2 separate regions of the Homo sapiens genome follow, and region 1 is linked to region 2. A link means that fine-mapping ties the variant in region 2 to the expression of a gene that starts in the linked region. Tissue or cell type: prefrontal cortex. Region 2 holds a variant in brackets; the other region holds the start of a gene. All regions are shown on one strand. Distances are from middle to middle.

Region 1 (8,106 bases), 110 kb before region 2:
CTTTCTTATAGCAATCTTTATAGCAACGCACCCACCTAAAACCTGCATTTTCAATATGAGCTAAAATGGTATTTAACAAAAAGTGCAAGGTTTTCATACCTGCTGGGAGCCGCAGCTACGGCTTCATGAATTTTCTTTCCTTCTTTCTCTCTTTCTCTTTCTTTCTTTCTTTTTACAGTGGTCCTTATGCTAAATTCATTCATCTTAAAATGATGGACAACTGCAGCTGCAGACCTCAATCTATGGTACATATCAAGAAAATTCAGCTTTTTTCTTGTAATGTTATGACTTTTCTCTGCTTTTTGGGAACACTTTCAGCATCACTAGTGTCACTTCATGTGGGTTCCATGGTGTTATTCAAGGTTTGCTGTATTACACTAAACATGATGAAAAATGTTTCATCATGAGAGATGAATTGCTCACTCAGAGATGATTAGCATCACACAGCACTTGAAGTGGATACTGGCAACACTTGAGTTCACCACAATAGCAACAAGAGATGGCCACAGGCCAGGCGTGGTGGCACACACCTGTAATCCTGGCACTTTGGGAGGCCGAGACGGGAGGATCACCTGAGATCAGGAGTTCGAGACCAGCCTGGCTAACATGGTGAAACTACATCTTTACTAAAAATACAAAAATTAGCCAGGTGTAGGGGCACATGCCCATAATCCCAGCTACTCGGGAGGCTGAGGCAGGAGAATCACTTGAACCTGGGAGGCGGAGGTTGCAGTGAGCCAAGATCATGCCACTGCACTCCAGCCTGGGCGACAGAGTGAGACTCTGTCTCAAAAAGAAAATCATAATAATAATCCCATTTTTGAGCATTTATTATGTACCAGACTCTGCTTAGTGTGTTACATTATCATTTCATATAACCTTCACAAGAATCTAAGGGATATACTTTTTTGTTTTGTTTTGTTTTGCTTTGTTTTGATACAGTGTTTTGCTCTGTTGCCCAGGCTGGAATGCAGCCGCACCATCTTTGCTCACTGCAACCTCCACCTCCTGGGCTCAAGCAATTCTCTTGCCTATAAAATGAGGCAATTTTGAGCAAGTGGTCAGGTTCTATCTACAGAATGGCCAATGTAAATTCTGTAACTGACCATCAAGTTTATCTTTTCCTGCCACCCACATAAATACTTAGAACCAAATGTGTTAGCAAGCTCATAGCAGGTAGAGCTGTGATTGATTTTTGTTTTGTTTACATTTTGGTCTTATGTACATTCGATTCTCCATCTCATCTCTCTACTCTTTTCCTTCTTTTTAAAAAATTTCTTGCTGATTTTTAATTTTTTAACATAATGTATTCCTGTAACTTACATTTAATATGTTTTTAGAATAAGGTAGCATATTAGTAAACAAATGGACTTAGCTTGGAAGAGGGAAAGTGAGGCTGTATGAGATTGTGGTAAAAAGCATGGGTTTGACTTCACTACCTTGGGCAAATTATTAAACCTTAATTGCCTCAATTATAAAAATGGGAAAAATGATTGTATTTTCCTTATAGAAAAATTACGAAAAATTAAATGAGGTAATGTACTTGGTAAATGTTAGCCATTATTATTATTATCATTATTTATGTTTTCCCTTCATGCCCATTCCAGATACTTCATTACTGGTGTCTATAAAGCAGGGTCTCCTGATAGTTTTAAAATACATATATATATATATATTTTTTTTTTTTTTGAGACAGAGTTTTGCTCTTGTTGCCCAGGCTGGAGTGCAACAGTGTGATCTCGGCTCACTACAACTTCCACCTCCCGGGTTCAAGCAATTCTGCCTCACCCTCCTGAGTAGCTGGGATTACAGGCGCTCGCCACCATGCCCAGCTAATTTTTTGTATTTTTAGTAGAAACTGGGTTTCACTATGTTGGCCAGGCTGGTCTCGAACTCCTGACCTCAGGCAATCCACCTGCCTCGGCCTCCCAAAGTGCTGGGATTATAACTTGAAGCTTTTCTAAAACACAAGGTAATGTTGCCACATGGACAACATGTGGGCCACAGCTTTGCAAGTACCAAAGCAATTCTTATTGATATCCTCTACCATTTCATTGCTGATGCACAGCTTGGGGTTGGATGTGAAGGAAATCTGAAGGCAGTAGACAGACAGCTATACATTTCAGTGGCAAAGTTTAAAAATGTCACCTATGGGTGTTCATTCCATCCATTTTTACTGAACTCCTGTTAAGTACCAGGCTCCAAGGATGCAATGGGAAAGCAAGACAGACATATCCCTGCTCCCTTAGATTTTATGGTCTCATGGTGGAATACAGGGAAGTGTGTTGACAATTATAATGCAGACTAATACGTGGGGTGATAGAGGGAGCCCAGGCAGCTAAGGACACATAGACAACTAATCTCAAGCTAACCCAGACATGTAGGAATCTTGGAGGAAGCGACATCTAGAGGAATACCAGGAAGATGAACAGAACTTCATCAGGTAAACTGGGAAAAAGTGTGGAATGTGGAGGGAGGGAATGGGGGGACAGAAACTGCCATTGAAGAAGCCTTGCATGTACGAATGTCGAGCACAACAGAGAACACAGCAAGTTTGAGGAACTAAAAGCTGTTCCTTTTAGCTGAAGCACAGCAAGCTTGTTCACATGGAGAGATAGCTGCCAGCTCTTAAAGACCCTCTCCGGCCACTGGAGAGTTTGGGCTTCATCGGGGGGCAGTGGGGAGCTAGGGAAGTGCCTTAAGCCTGGGAGGGACGTGCCCTTTAACTCATGTAATTTTCCACATTCAGAGGGAAGTTGGAGAGCATCCAACTTACTTCACTTAACAGGTGAGGAAACAGGGGTGAGGCTCCTTGCCTAAGATCATTCTTCTGTTAGTTGCAAAACTAGAACCAAAAGGCAAGCCTCTGGATTTCCAACACAGTGGCTTCAAAAGACCATACTGCTCTCCTTTATACACAAATAGAACTCAGAGGTCGGAGTTATTTTTGCCTAAGATCTAACCAAATATATATGTAATAGTCTTTTCTGTTTTTAGGCAACTTGTTCCTGAAGGTGAAAAGACAGGGAAGGAACAACAGGGAGAAATACGTCTTCCAAAAAACTATACCATCTGCAATAATATGCCCCTTAGAATGAAAATCTGATTTATTGGGATTCTCATTGTTAAGTATTTGTAATCACTGAACTTGAAATCCCAAGGATCACGGTGGAAAATGAAACATTTTTTAAAAAGGAAACCTCAGTTCTGTTTTTAAACCCATCCTCCACAAACACCCCCACAGCTTTTCACACTGAACCAGGGAAGAAATGTATGTGTGTGTATATATATATATATATAAGTCATTTTTTTCCGAAATAGCAATTTGAATTGGAATTAGCGATTTAAGATCAAACCACAAGGAATTATGGATTCTGAGCACGTGGGAAATAAGGTGAGATCAGTAAAGGAAAGCAAAGGCTTCCACAAGTCCTTTGCTGGAGCTTGAATAACGGGGCTCCTCCACAAATTGCCCTTATTAGGAACAGCTGAGTGATTAAGTATAAATTTGTGGGCCTTAGGAAACCACTCCTTATATCTACATACACTCCACAATGTCTCAAATGTTTTCAAATTATTTACCCTGTAAGGTATAAAGGGCAACTGTTATTCCCTGTGTTGCAGATACGGTGACCTCTGTGGAGCAGAGTGGTGAAGTGACCTGCTCAGGTGTCTCAAGGTTAGAATTTGGTGCAGCCTGACTTCAGCCTGGTCTGAAGGCCTACCAGGCTGGATTTCAATGAGAATTGTTTCTTTCTCTTTTTCTTTTCTCTCTTTCTTTCTCTTCTTTCTTTCCTTCTCTTCTTTCTCTCTCTTTCTTTTTCTTTCTTCCTTTCTCTCTCTCTCTCTCCCCCCGTCTCTCTCTTTCATTCTTTTTTTTTTTTTTTTGAGACAGAGTCTCACTCTGTCACCCAGTCTGGAGTGCGGCGGCAGGATCATAGCTCACTGTAGCCTCAATCTCCCAGGCTCAAGCAATCCTCCCACCTCAGCCTCCTGAGTAGCTGGGACAAAAGGTGGATGCCACCACACCCATCTATTTTTTTTTTTTTTTAATTTTTAGTAGAGATGAAGTTTCGTTGAGTTGCCCAGGATGGTCTCCAATTCCTGAGCTCAAGCAATCCTCTCTCCTCGGCCTCCCAAAGTTTTGGTATTACAGGTGTGAGCCACCGCTGGGCAGATAATTGCTTCTTTAAAGAGCCCGACACGGCAGATAAGCCTTGAAGAGAAAGGTACCTGTCCTCTCAGTGCTTCCTGCCACCTATTTGTCCGTTAGGCAATTCTTCCAGAATGAAGTTGAGGCAGGCCCCTGTAAAAGAGGTGGCAGCTTCAGGGACTCTTCTCCAGGGAACTGGAAGGGAGCGGAAGAACTTATTCTTAAGCGAAGGAGCCCTATCAGCGACCAAGCTCAATTGGTGGAAGGCCCCTTCCCCTAGCCCCAGTTGCATCTTCTGTCACTTCACCCTGCTCCTTCTCCTCAGAGCACTTTGGGCTGTAACTGGACGTTTGCTAGGTTAATTTACACCTGTTTCTCCTGGCAGGTGATAAAACTCCAAGGGGGCAGGACCCTGTCTTTTGTACACCAGTGCACACCCAAGTCCTGGCACGGTACTTGGAACAGGATAGGTAATCAATAAAGACTGGGTTGATAAAAGAGCACTTGGAAATCATGTGGGGCCAATAAGATCCGAACGCGGCCGAAGCTCTCGTCCTCGGGTTGCTGCAGGTGTGGTTCCCGGTGATGGAGGCCGTGGAAGAAGCCTTCCCTCCCTTTCCCGCCCCCAGGGCAGGAAGCCTGGGGGCTGAGCGGTCCTCCGAAACCGAGAGGCAGGTCCTGGGTGCGCCGGCGGTACAGCGGAGAGCGTGGAGAGACCCTCGCCGCAGCCATTTCCTGCCCTTTGTGTGACAGCCGCTGCGGCGAAGGGGCGGGCGCTGGGTGGGGGCGGAGCCGCGGCGGGCGGAGCAGCGGGGCCGGGGCGGGGCCGAGCGCGGCGCAGCGGAGCGGGGCAGAGCATCCTGCGCCCCGGCGCGGGGCCCTGCGGTAGCCTCAGGCCCCTCCCCTGGACCCGCCGCAGAGCCAGGTAAGCGGCCCTCGCAGGCCTCGGGCCGGGCACGGGGACTAGGATGCCGCCGGGGACGGGGATGAGGCCGTGAGGATGCGCGAAGGGCCGCCCCCTCTCCCGGCCCGCGGGGGGCGCTCGGCGCTGTGCCCGGGCTAGCCCGAGGCCCGGCCTCAGGCCCCACGCGGCCCCTTTCCCCCTCGGACCCACCGTGCGTCCCGCGGCACGGACCCTCTGCCCGGGAGGCGCGGGCACATCGCGGAGCTCCGGCGCGGCGGCGGGGGAGCCGCAGCAGCAGGTGCGCGGCCTGGGCCGGAGCCGCCAGCCCGGGAGGAGGCGGTGCTAATCTCAGGGACCGGAGACACCTGCAGCGGCCGCGAGCCCGGCAGCGGCGACATCCTCGAGTCCAGGTACTGCAGAGCGCTGGCCCCTGCCTCTGCCGCCGTGACCACCGTCACCTCCCCCAGGGCCAGCGAGAGCCGCCTGGGCCCGCCTGGCAGCCGCCTCGGGCACACAGAACGTGTGATGGGTGGGGCGAGGGGCGCAGCGTCGATGTTTGGGGGCGGAGGGCTTTGATGAGAGAGGAGCAGGTCTGACCCGCTTGGAAGCTTTCTGGCCTACACTAGCATCGCTCACCAAGCTGGCTGCGGGCACGGTGGAAGTGGGGGAAGGGGATGAGTGGGCTGACTCCTGGGGGAAAAGGTGGTTTTTTTCTTGAGCTCTGAAGAACCAGGAAGATGCTTGCCTGTCTGTTGTGGCGTCTACTTTTCAGGTCAGCCCTACCCCTCACCCCAAAGAACAGCCCACCTATGTGCAAAAGAAGAGGAGGAGGTGCTCTCTGCTTGGGGATGGGGGCAGGTAGCATGTTCCACATAAGTATGGCCCTCTATATCCAGAACCCGGCTGGAAAGGACACTGACAGCCCAGGTGCCTCCCCAGCACAGGGAATCTGATTTTGACCTTTGCTTGCCTACTTTCCCCAGCACAGTGGAAACACTCACCAGGGCTGATGAGCCATCAGCTGTCCTTCCAGCTAGGCCAAGAATGGGACAAGGATCTTTTTCTGCTAGTTCCTGGGTGCCTGTGCCCTCAGCATGGGCAGGGAGACGGAGGCAGGCCTGCTGGCAGGAGGGGCAAATCAGGAGACTGTCGGTTCCTGTGTTCCCATTTCCTGCCTCCTGTCTGTGTCCCAGTTAGGGCAGTGGGTCTCACCTTACTCTTGGATACAGGCTGTGCCAGCAACCTGGGTCCCTGAGATCTTAGAGGGCAAAAATCAGGTCCATATCTTTGGGCAGGCCTGTGAAGGCCTTGATGGTTGCTTTCTCCACCATTAGACCCTCTCTCTGTGGCCCTCCTGGTGGCCTCCCACCTCCACTTCCATACAGTGCCCTGCCCTTCCCCCAGTCTCCAGTGTCAGAAATGGTTTTCAAGAAAGGAGCCAATGATTGTGTTTATCTTGAAGAGCTAAATACAAAAGAAGTTCCCATTTGATGCAGAGCAGGTGCTTTACAAGTCATTTGACCGGAAAAGAAACAGAGGATGGAGGCATTTTAATGGGAAACAAAGCTTTAATGGGAAACACTGTAGAAATATTTGCTATCACTAATGGTAGAATTTCAAACAGTGGGCTGGAAGTGGAGGTGGGGAGCTGGGTAGTTCTTTTGGGAACGGGTCCCTGAAATGACAATATCTAGCAGCTGTCAGCTCTGTATTTGGCAAGGGCAGCTTTGGCCCTGCAGGCAGGAATGCTGTAAGAGTGTGTATGCATGCATGTGCATGCGTGCATGTTTGTTTGACTGGTCAGGTGTTACTGTCACCAGAAGGCATTTTTTGAGCACCCAGTGTCCACTTTCGGGATGAGAAACTTGTGTACACAGGGTTCCTCGTTGGCATTGGCTGCCCTTTGCCAAGGCAATTATTAGACCTCAAGAAGATAGTGTTGTTGCTTACAAAGTCAGTGCCTCTAGCTAGTTGTGCGCACTGAGCCTCTGGCTGGGGGCATTAGCTCTCTGCTCACTAAGCTTCTTTATTATATTTCCTGGCCAGTTCTGACCGGTTCTGTAGGCACCCAAGGCTGCCTTGTTCAGTCCCTGCTGGAAAATGAAAAAGGAAAAACTTGCTTTAGGCATTAGGCCAAGAGTCGGATGTACAACCCAGTGGGGTTGGAGAGTTTTACTCAAATCAGATGCTGGCCCAGAGAAGGAAGTAGACATGAATTCAAAAACCGGTAAAAGGCCCTGGTAGAACACTACATGACCCCTCTGATAAATCATGCCCTCTCTGATGTTCAGTGGCCTCTGCTGCTGTCATCAACCAGAAAGCTGAATGAGATGATGAATCGGCTACAAGCTAATTAACGGGAAAAGCGCTCCTGGAAAACAGTACGGGTCCCAGTCCCTACGTTTAAAGATTGGACTACACTCTCAACGCAGCTTCTTTGGACCACTGTTGGCCCCAGGGGTCCACCAAAAGCGTCACAAAATGGCCTTTTGTAGCCTCCATGTGGCCACCGTAACAATGAGTCTATTTCTTTACTGGCAAGTATTAATTATTCACTTGTAATTGACAAAGCCAGACATCAGTCACCTCACTGGAGTCTTTATGAAAGGCTTTTGGTCCTGTCATTCTGAGGAGCAAAGCCATGCCTAGGGTCCAGGGGATGGCCCCTGCATCAGTAGTGAGATGGTGGGAGAAGGGGGGCAGGCTGCTGCCTTCTTGGCAGTGAATGGAGGCAGGGGAGGAACTAGAATATCTTTGGATGCTCTTACTACCCAAGGGGTGCATGAAAGTGCCGAGCAGAATGCTTAGCACATAGTAAGTACTAGCATATTTATGTATTTATTGTTATAATGTATTAATTACATAATCATTAAGAATTTGGCTTATGTATGTAATCAACCCTTGGCTATTACCAGCCCCTCTCCCTCCAGAGCTTTCCTGAATTTTGCTTTTTTGAGGGAAGTTGGTCTCTGTGACCAGTAAACCCAGCCCCAAGTTTACCGGCCGAAGGAAGGGAAAGTTAAGAGTGATAGGGCATGAAGTGAAAGGC
Region 2 (8,106 bases):
GATGGTACACTCCTTCTCTAAGCCTTAGTTTCCACGCCTGAAAAGTGCTGGGACTGAGGAGCTACCTCACAGAGTTCTTAGTGTTAAGTGAGGTAATGAATGCGAAGTCTCCAGCGCTTAAGAAGCAGGTCCTCGGTTACCAAGAGCCCCCTTTCCTCCTCTTGCCATCAGCAAAGAGACTTGAATCGGCCTTTTCTCTAAGCCCCGTTAGAACTGAAAGCCTGGCTCCTGACTGCCCATAGCACTGTGGCCCACACTCCTCACAAGCCCAAGCCAAGGATGCCCCACTCCTTTCATATCAGCCACCTCATTTTATCCCTGATTTCATCCTCCTCCTGAATGGGATGGCACCTTTCCTCCCAGTTCAAAACCCTGCCCCTCCTCTCAGGCCCATCTCACAGCCATCATTTCCTCATCCTCCACAAACCGCTGGTCCTTTTATTCAACACACATTTTATCAAATGCCTTTCTCTGCAAGGAACTTGGTGGTGTTTCTCTCTCTTCTCAGTCTCCAAAGCCCTTTGTCAGCAACTTCTCCTATTGCACCCAATTGATTCTGTTTTATTTCTCAGTCACGGGTGTCCTTGGATCTCTTCTCCACTAGATGGTAAACTTCATTGAAATCTCATTTTTACAGAGCTCTACCTGTTGTAGTGTTTCCCACAGCATCCAGGCCCTTCCCTGGCTCCATGGTGTGTTTCATCTTCATCTCTGTGCCTTTGAGTTGTCTGCCAGATCACAGAGCAAGCACTCAATAGATATTTGGTGACCTAAAGAAAGGAATAAAGAGGTAGCAGCAAATGCAGAGAAGTGGCATCTTCCCTATTTCTGACTTGAAAGGTGTCTTTTTATCCCTGTTTAGGTTGTATGCTAGTAGACATGGAAATGTTCAGAATTTATGTATTCCCTTGAACTCAAGGAGCACTTTGTGCTGTTTTTCTCTTGGGTCTCATATAGTCAGAGGAACTGAAGTCTCCGGAAGGGTCTTGGTCACCCTGAGAAGCACCCACTTATGCAAACCTTGCACTTGCACAGTTCCTTTCCCCTGGGGTCAGCCTCCATCCCATGCTGACTTCCAAGCTCAGATCTACTCTGCAGACTCTGCAGGGCCTAGGCCTCACATCTAGTTGCCTTTTAGACATCTTCTCTTCCGTGTCCACACACATCAGAAATTTACCTTGCCTGAATCTGACCTTGGCTTCCTCCTGCCTGCAGCCTTGCTGTTCTCTGACTCCATAAACGGTACCAACGTCATACAGGTGCCCTGGGCAGGGGTCCTTTTACTCCCGCCCTCAGGTCCAGTCATCAGGTCTCTGGCCTCTGCTCACTTCCTTCTATCTCCTTTGCCGCTACTCCTGGCCCTGCTTTCTCCTGCTTGGACTCTTCCAACACCCCCTTTGCTCTCCCCAATCCTTTCTCCCTTGCAACCAGAAGGTGAAACTGCAGCTTGGCCATTTCCCTGATGAAAACCATCAGGATAATGTCTAGAAATCTAAGAGAGGCTTAGAAGATTCTTCCCAAACCACTCCTGCCCACCCCTCCTTCCTGTCTCACATCACTTTCCTCTAGCACTGAAAGCTTCAGTCTACCTTGGCTCTCAGCCCTGCCCTACTGTGGCCTCTTGCTTTGGGGCCTTTGCAGGTACTGTTCCCCCTTAGCTGTCCAACACTCACCCCTGGTTCAACTTAGCGTCCTTCTTCAGAAAGTCTTCCCTATCATCCTCCCCAAAAGTCTGAATTGGTTGCTCCTCTTTGCATCCCCATAGACCCCAGGCATACCCCAATTGTAGCACTTACTAGAATTGCCCATTCTAGTTTTGACTTATTTTGTCATCATCTTGGTAAGGGTTGTGCATCTGGTCTCCCTCACCTACTCCAGCACCTTGCAGAAAGCCTTGTGCCTATTATTTGCTATATAAATGAAAGAATGACAATCTCTGGCTCAGGCTCTATTCAAGTCAGAATGAAAGTCTTCAGAATTTGGTACAACCTTGTTGGGTATCTAGATCCTATTATACACATGTTCTCTGTATTCTTGCTGGCCTCTCATATCATGCCAATGAGAAAAATATAGAGAACGTGCAGGTCCTGCACATGGGTTGTCCCTCAAGAAGATTCTCAATCAATGTTTACATGAGATGTGGGTCACTGCCCTGGTCCTCCATCAGCAGCTCAGATTTCAGGACCCTGGGCTAGATAAGACAGCCCAATGTGCAGATGGCTTAGTGGAAGCCCTGAATGAATAAAAGCTCTGGTAAGTTTTTAAAAAGCAAAGGCACTGTGGGCTGGAGGGGCTTGGAAGACTCCTAGAAGGTAAAACTTAAATGGGGCTTTATGGGATGGATAAGACTGGGTAGAAAACTTTGGGTGGGGGTAAGAGGGTCAGGGAAGAAGGAATTTTTGGGTACAAACTGACGTGAGTGGTCTAATTATAGACTTGGAATAACATCAACAGATTTATAAAAATTAGTCCATCTGCAAAGAAATTATTTAAACCAATTCAGGATTGAGGCTACCTCTGGAAGTTGGGAATAAAGGTATCAGTAATTTCCTATTTCTTTGTACAGAAGAAGGTAGCTCAGACTCTTGTTCTTCTTCAAACTGCATATATACCACAGTTTCAAGAATGTTAGTTGCTATAACCAAAAACCCAATAAGTCAACAAATGATATGATCCTGTCAGATGTGAGTGAGGCTGAAGTTTCTTAGGTGTTAAGATTTTAAGTGATTTTCTGTTTCTATTCTTGGTAACTTTGCAATTTAATGACATGTATATATAATGAAGGGGGAAAGTCAGGCTTCCCAAGGCTTTGGCTGCATTGGCTGCCATGGAAAAACAACGGGTGTCGAAGTGGAGTGGCTCCTGGATCGAAATGTCAGCCTTACTGCTTATTTAAGCATCTGTGTGCGGACCTAGTTAGGAAAGTTCACCTTACTACCAGCCTTGATGTCCTTGTCCACAGGATGGGGACAGTGAGCCCTATCTCACAGGGCTGTCCAGAAGCATAAAGCAGGCGACTGACAGAAAGCAAATAGCTCATTCGTTAGTGCTCAGTAATGTTCATTGCCTCTCCTTCTCTGAAGAGAAAAGTGGTTGTATTTTACAGACTCTTGGTTCTAGAGACTTGGAGACCATTTAATCCAGCCTCTTCATTTTGTTTAAGTTGCTAATTGCACATTATAACTTAATTCCATTAAGTTCTTAATTGCACATTATAACAAATCAAATACTACAGATGAGCTTTTGATGAAAAACATCCTACTTGGCTCCACTGCACCTCTGCCCACCTGCATTCCCAATTCCCAGGGCAGCCTATCCTGTTTCCAGTTCTTCCAGTTACCTCCATAACACTCATGAGGGTAACCTATTTCTTAATTAGCAACTTTAGACAATACTTACTGACTCCCTACTTGGAAAGATGAGATTTTATCTCATTTATCTCTCTCCCTCTCTTCCTTTCAAAATTTGATTATATTACTGCTTCTGTTGTTTTCTCTTGTCATATCTATATGATTATAGATAATATACTTACATCTCTACTGCTGCTTTTGGTAACAGGATTTAGTATCTTGACTCCTTTCCATGAAAGGACAAAAGACTGAGGAAATTACCCCATAAATTAAACTTAAATGAAAGGAGCCAATTCCTTAAGAGACACAAACCGCCAAAACTCACTTAAAAATTGATAAGCTGAATAGTGCTGTATCTATTAAAGAAATATCATTCCTACTTATAAAAAAAAACTTCCAACAAAAAAAAACTCCCAACTCTGTCTCTACAAAAAAATTAGCCAGCTTGGTGGCACTTACCTGTAGTCCCAGCTATTCAGGAGGCTGAGATGGGAGGATCACCTAAACCCAGAAGGTCAAGACTAGTGAGCCATGATTACACTACTGCATTCCAGCCCAGGCAAGGGAGCAAGACCCTGTCTCAAAAAAAAAAAAAAAAAAAAAAAAACCCACACCAGACGCAGATGGTTTCACTTGTGAATTCCATCAAATATTTAAGGAGGAAATAGTACCAATTCTACATGGTCTCCTCTGTAACCGCCCAGCAGGTTCGCCTTGCCCACTGCCCAGACAGAGCCTATTTATCCAGACAGGGGAATTGCAAGGGACAAAGAGTAATGCATGCAAAGCTGGCCATGCAGGAGACTGGAGTTTCATTATTACTCAAATCAGTCTCCTTGAGCATTCGGGAATCAGATAATTTAAATAATTTAATTATTTAAAGATAATTTGACAGGTA[G/A]GAGCTTAGGAAGCGTGGAGTGCTGATTGATCAGGTTGGAGATGGAATCATGGAGGGTCGAAGTGAGTTTCTCTTGCTGTTTTCTGTTCCTGGGTGAGATGGCAGAACTCCTTGAGCCAGATACCAGTCTGGATGGTGTCAGCTGATCCACTGGAGTGCAGGGTCTGCAAAATATCTCAAGCACTGATCTTGGGTTTTACAATAATGATGTTATCACCAGGGGCAATTGGGGAGGTTCAGACTCTTGGAGCCAGAGGCTCCGTGACCCCTAAACTGTAATTTCTAATCTTGTAGCTAATTTGTTAGTCCTGCAAAGGCAGACTGGTCCTCAGGCAAGAAAGGGGTCTTTTCAGGAAAGGGCTATGATCAATTTTGTTTCAGAGACAAACCATGAACTGAATTCATTCCCCAAGTTAGTCCGGCCTCTGCCCAGGAGTGAACAAGAACAGCTTCCAGGTTAGAAGCAAAATGAGGTTCATTAGGTCTGATTTCTTTCACTGTCATAATGTCCCCTGTTATAATTTTGGAAAGGTGGTTTTGTCTCCAAAAAATACAAACAAGGGGAACTCTCCCCATCTTTTGAGGTCAACATTACCCTAATACCAAAACCTAAGGCATTTGAAAATAAAACTACAAATCAGTATCCTTCATGAATACAGAGCAAAAATCCTCAACAAAATGTTAGCAAATAAAATCGAGCAATACATCAAAAGTATAATATAATCAAGTGGGTTTATTTCAGGTATGCAAGGCTGACTCATCATTCAAAAATCATCCAATGTAATTCACCATGTGAATATGAAAGATTAGCCTGAATGATCAGTAAGCAAAGTTTTCAGGTTATATGATGAATCAAAGGATCTAAGCTTAGACATAGCAATGAAGGCCAGGTTATGGGATTTACTAGAAAGGAAAGAAACAAACACCTCACTTAAGAAAGGAGGAAAGGGCCGTGCGCAGTGGCTCACACCTGTAATCCCAGCACTTGGGTAGGCCAAGGCAGGCAGATCACCTGAGGTCAGGAGTTTGAGACCAGCCTGGCCAACATGGCAAAACCCCATCTCTACTAAAAATACAAAAATTAGCCAGGTTCAAACATAGAAAATGATAAACAGAGTGAAATAATACGGACCTATATATCCGACCACCAGCTTAAGAAAGAAAACATTGTAAATAGAATAAAAATTGTGTTTTTCCACCACATACTACCTTGCCTTCCCTTTCCACTGAGACATAACCACTACTCTGGATTTGGTAGTTCTTACTCCCACGAATTTCTTTATTACTTTACTTTGTACATATGTATCACTGAACAATACATATCATTATTGTACATGTTTTTAGATGTAAATAAATGCTATCACATTGTAGGTATGATAAAAAAAAAAAAAAATTAGCCAGGCATGATGGCGAGCGCCTGTAGTCTCAGCTACTCAGGAGGCTGAGGCAGGAGTAATTGCTTGAATACAAGAGGCAGAGGCTGCAGTGAGCCGAGATCATACCACTGCACTCCAGCCTGGGCAACAGAATGGGACTCCGTTTCACAAAAAAAAAAAAAAAAAAGGGGTGAGGGGGAAGTTTCCCCTCTGGATAAGAAACTGAGAATGACAGTCAGATCAGGCTCCTGTGAGGGGACTGCAGAGTGTTCTTCCTCTGGTAGCCTCATTTCTAGGACTGATCTGCAGTTAAACAGGAGTTGGGGCTCCCCTCTTGAACAGCTGGCCTTTCAGAGTCCTGGATTGGCAGTGTTCCATCCATGCCCGGGGTAGAAGAAGGCAAGGACACCTGCAATCTTGATTTTCTCAGATGCTTAGAATCCCAAAGTGTCAGAGTTTGAAATGGAGCCTGGATCCTACCTAATCCAAATGCCCATAGTTGAAGAGAAAGCAAACCCCGGCAGAGGATGGCTTCTCCAGACTCCTTCCCTCCCCTTTGTTCTGAAATCCAGGGATTGTGAGCATGTCCCAGGACAGTAAGCCCATGAGACCCTATCTCCCGTCTTGCCCTAACCAAGCTTCCCCTCCAACCACTGTATGTTTGCTTTTAAGTTTATCTTTGCACATAACAAATAACCATTGAAACCAATCTGGCCTGGGTTCTCGTCCCTCTTTTCTTGCTAGTTGATGTCTGGTGTGGAGAAAACCAATCAGACATAGGCCTTTACACAGAGTCCTAGATTTGTAGACTGGAAGACTGACCTAGCCACCTGCCTTGAGCCTACAGACCTCACAACCAAAAAGACACAGACTGAGGCCCATCATATGTTTGATTCTGTGTAATCCATCCTAATTCAACAAATTCCTGATAAGATTATAGTAAAAATGTATTGAGCTCTCATTATGTACCTGTGACTATTCCACAAGGTTATGCATTTTCTCGTTTGATCCTCACAACCCATTAAAATAGGTACTGTTCTCATCCTTATTTTGCAGATAGATAAAAAGACTCAGAGAAGCTAAGTAACTTGCCCAAGGTCACAGTGAGTAGAAGAGCCAGGATTTGAACCCAGGTCTAGCTAACTCCAGTGCTCAGGTTTTTAGGAATGAAAAATCTTCCTGGTTTAAAATGAAAATTGTTTTCTCTTTCTTTACCCCCATCTCTGCAGTCTCAGGAGGAGGTCTGCGATTTGCTCCATGCCGCACCCTTCCAAAACATCTTGCCTAGAGTCTACATCAAAGGTAAGAAACCACTACAGCAGCTGAATAGCCAACTGGCGTTTGAACCTTATTCTCACTTCCTAATTGCAGTCAACTCAGATCTAGTCAGCAAGGGGGAAGGTTAAAGCTTTGGACACCTATTGAATAGCCACAGAATCACAAATTGGAAGATGGACCTAGCCACCTGCATTGAGCCTGCTGACCTCATGACCAACCAGACAGACTCTGAGGCCTATTATCTTTGATTCTGTCATTCATTCAAATTCTTCAACAAATTCCTTATAAGATTATAGAAATGACACTCCAGGCCCTGTCCCTTGTTCCTTCTAACATATCTCTAGTATAGTGATATCTAGACTTGGAATTTAAATATATATATTAATATATTAAACCACTATACTAGAGATATTCTAGAAGGCAGACGATTCCATTCTTGGACAAATCATAGAACATTTTTCCTTGTAAAAACTACTCACACTTTCCAGAACGAAGGAGAGCAGTTCCACACACTCCATCCCATTTTTGGAATGCAGATACATCATCAGGTCCTTTGGGAGTTTTTCCTTCCCCAGTTGCCCTGTGTTCCCTGAGTCTCATTTTCTGCTCTGCGACTCCTTTTGCAGAGGGGGAGCGCCTGGAGGTCCGGATGAAACGTCTGGAAGCCAAGTATGCCCCGCTCCACCTGGTCCCTCTGATCGAGCGGCTGGGGACCCCTCAGGTACCAATCTTATATAATAAATGGGCTCTGATCACTGACAGGAACTTGAGAGCATTTGACCAAACCCCCTCATTGTACAGGTCAGGAAACTGAGGCTCAGAGAAGGGAAGACAATGTCCAATACCCAAAAACTGGTTAATATTAATAGCAACAGCAGGTCTGGAATGAGATTTGCTGACTCTCAGGCCTGAGTGTTTCTTCTGTAGCCTGTATCATGTATCCTGCCAACAAGTCGTCTGCTTATTTAAACAAGTATCTACTGTGTCCCTGGTAGATATCAAGAATCTGTTACTTTGCCTCTGAAAATTAAAACTCCACATACTCTGTGAGCCAGCAGTTCACTTCTGGATACTTTTGCTAAAGAAACACTTAACGGAACACTAGATGCTTATGTAACATTGTTTGTTAAAGCAAAAACTAGAAACAACCCAAACATCTAATAGTAAAGCATTGATTAAATAAAATGCCAGGTTATTGCATATC

Direction of the effects. Alleles are on the strand shown, and positions count from the first base shown. SD is a standard deviation of normalised expression in the study named.
For the expression in prefrontal cortex of the gene that starts at base 5,006 in region 1, allele G in region 2 goes with a higher level than allele A (small effect, 0.32 SD a copy in ROSMAP).

Evidence for each region. PIP is the estimated chance that this variant, and not a neighbour inherited with it, causes the effect.
Region 1: CYFIP2 starts here. The variant in region 2 is fine-mapped to the expression of CYFIP2 in prefrontal cortex (ROSMAP, PIP 0.95).

The regions. Positions count from the first base shown.
Region 1 is chr5:157,261,118-157,269,223 of GRCh38, forward strand. CYFIP2 (cytoplasmic FMR1 interacting protein 2) reads left to right here and starts at 5,006. Exons shown (of 31, transcript NM_001037333.3): 1 at 5,006-5,078. RefSeq lists a silencer at 4,913-5,432 and an enhancer at 6,113-6,222.
Region 2 is chr5:157,375,737-157,383,842 of GRCh38, forward strand. CYFIP2 (cytoplasmic FMR1 interacting protein 2) reads left to right here. Exons shown (of 31, transcript NM_001037333.3): 27 at 6,854-6,926; 28 at 7,529-7,623. All of the region lies in intron 1 of NIPAL4-DT (NIPAL4 divergent transcript), which reads right to left. Among named protein-coding and RNA genes, the nearest start is that of FNDC9, 34 kb to the left of the region's middle. The variant G/A (reference allele first, on the strand shown) is at 4,249.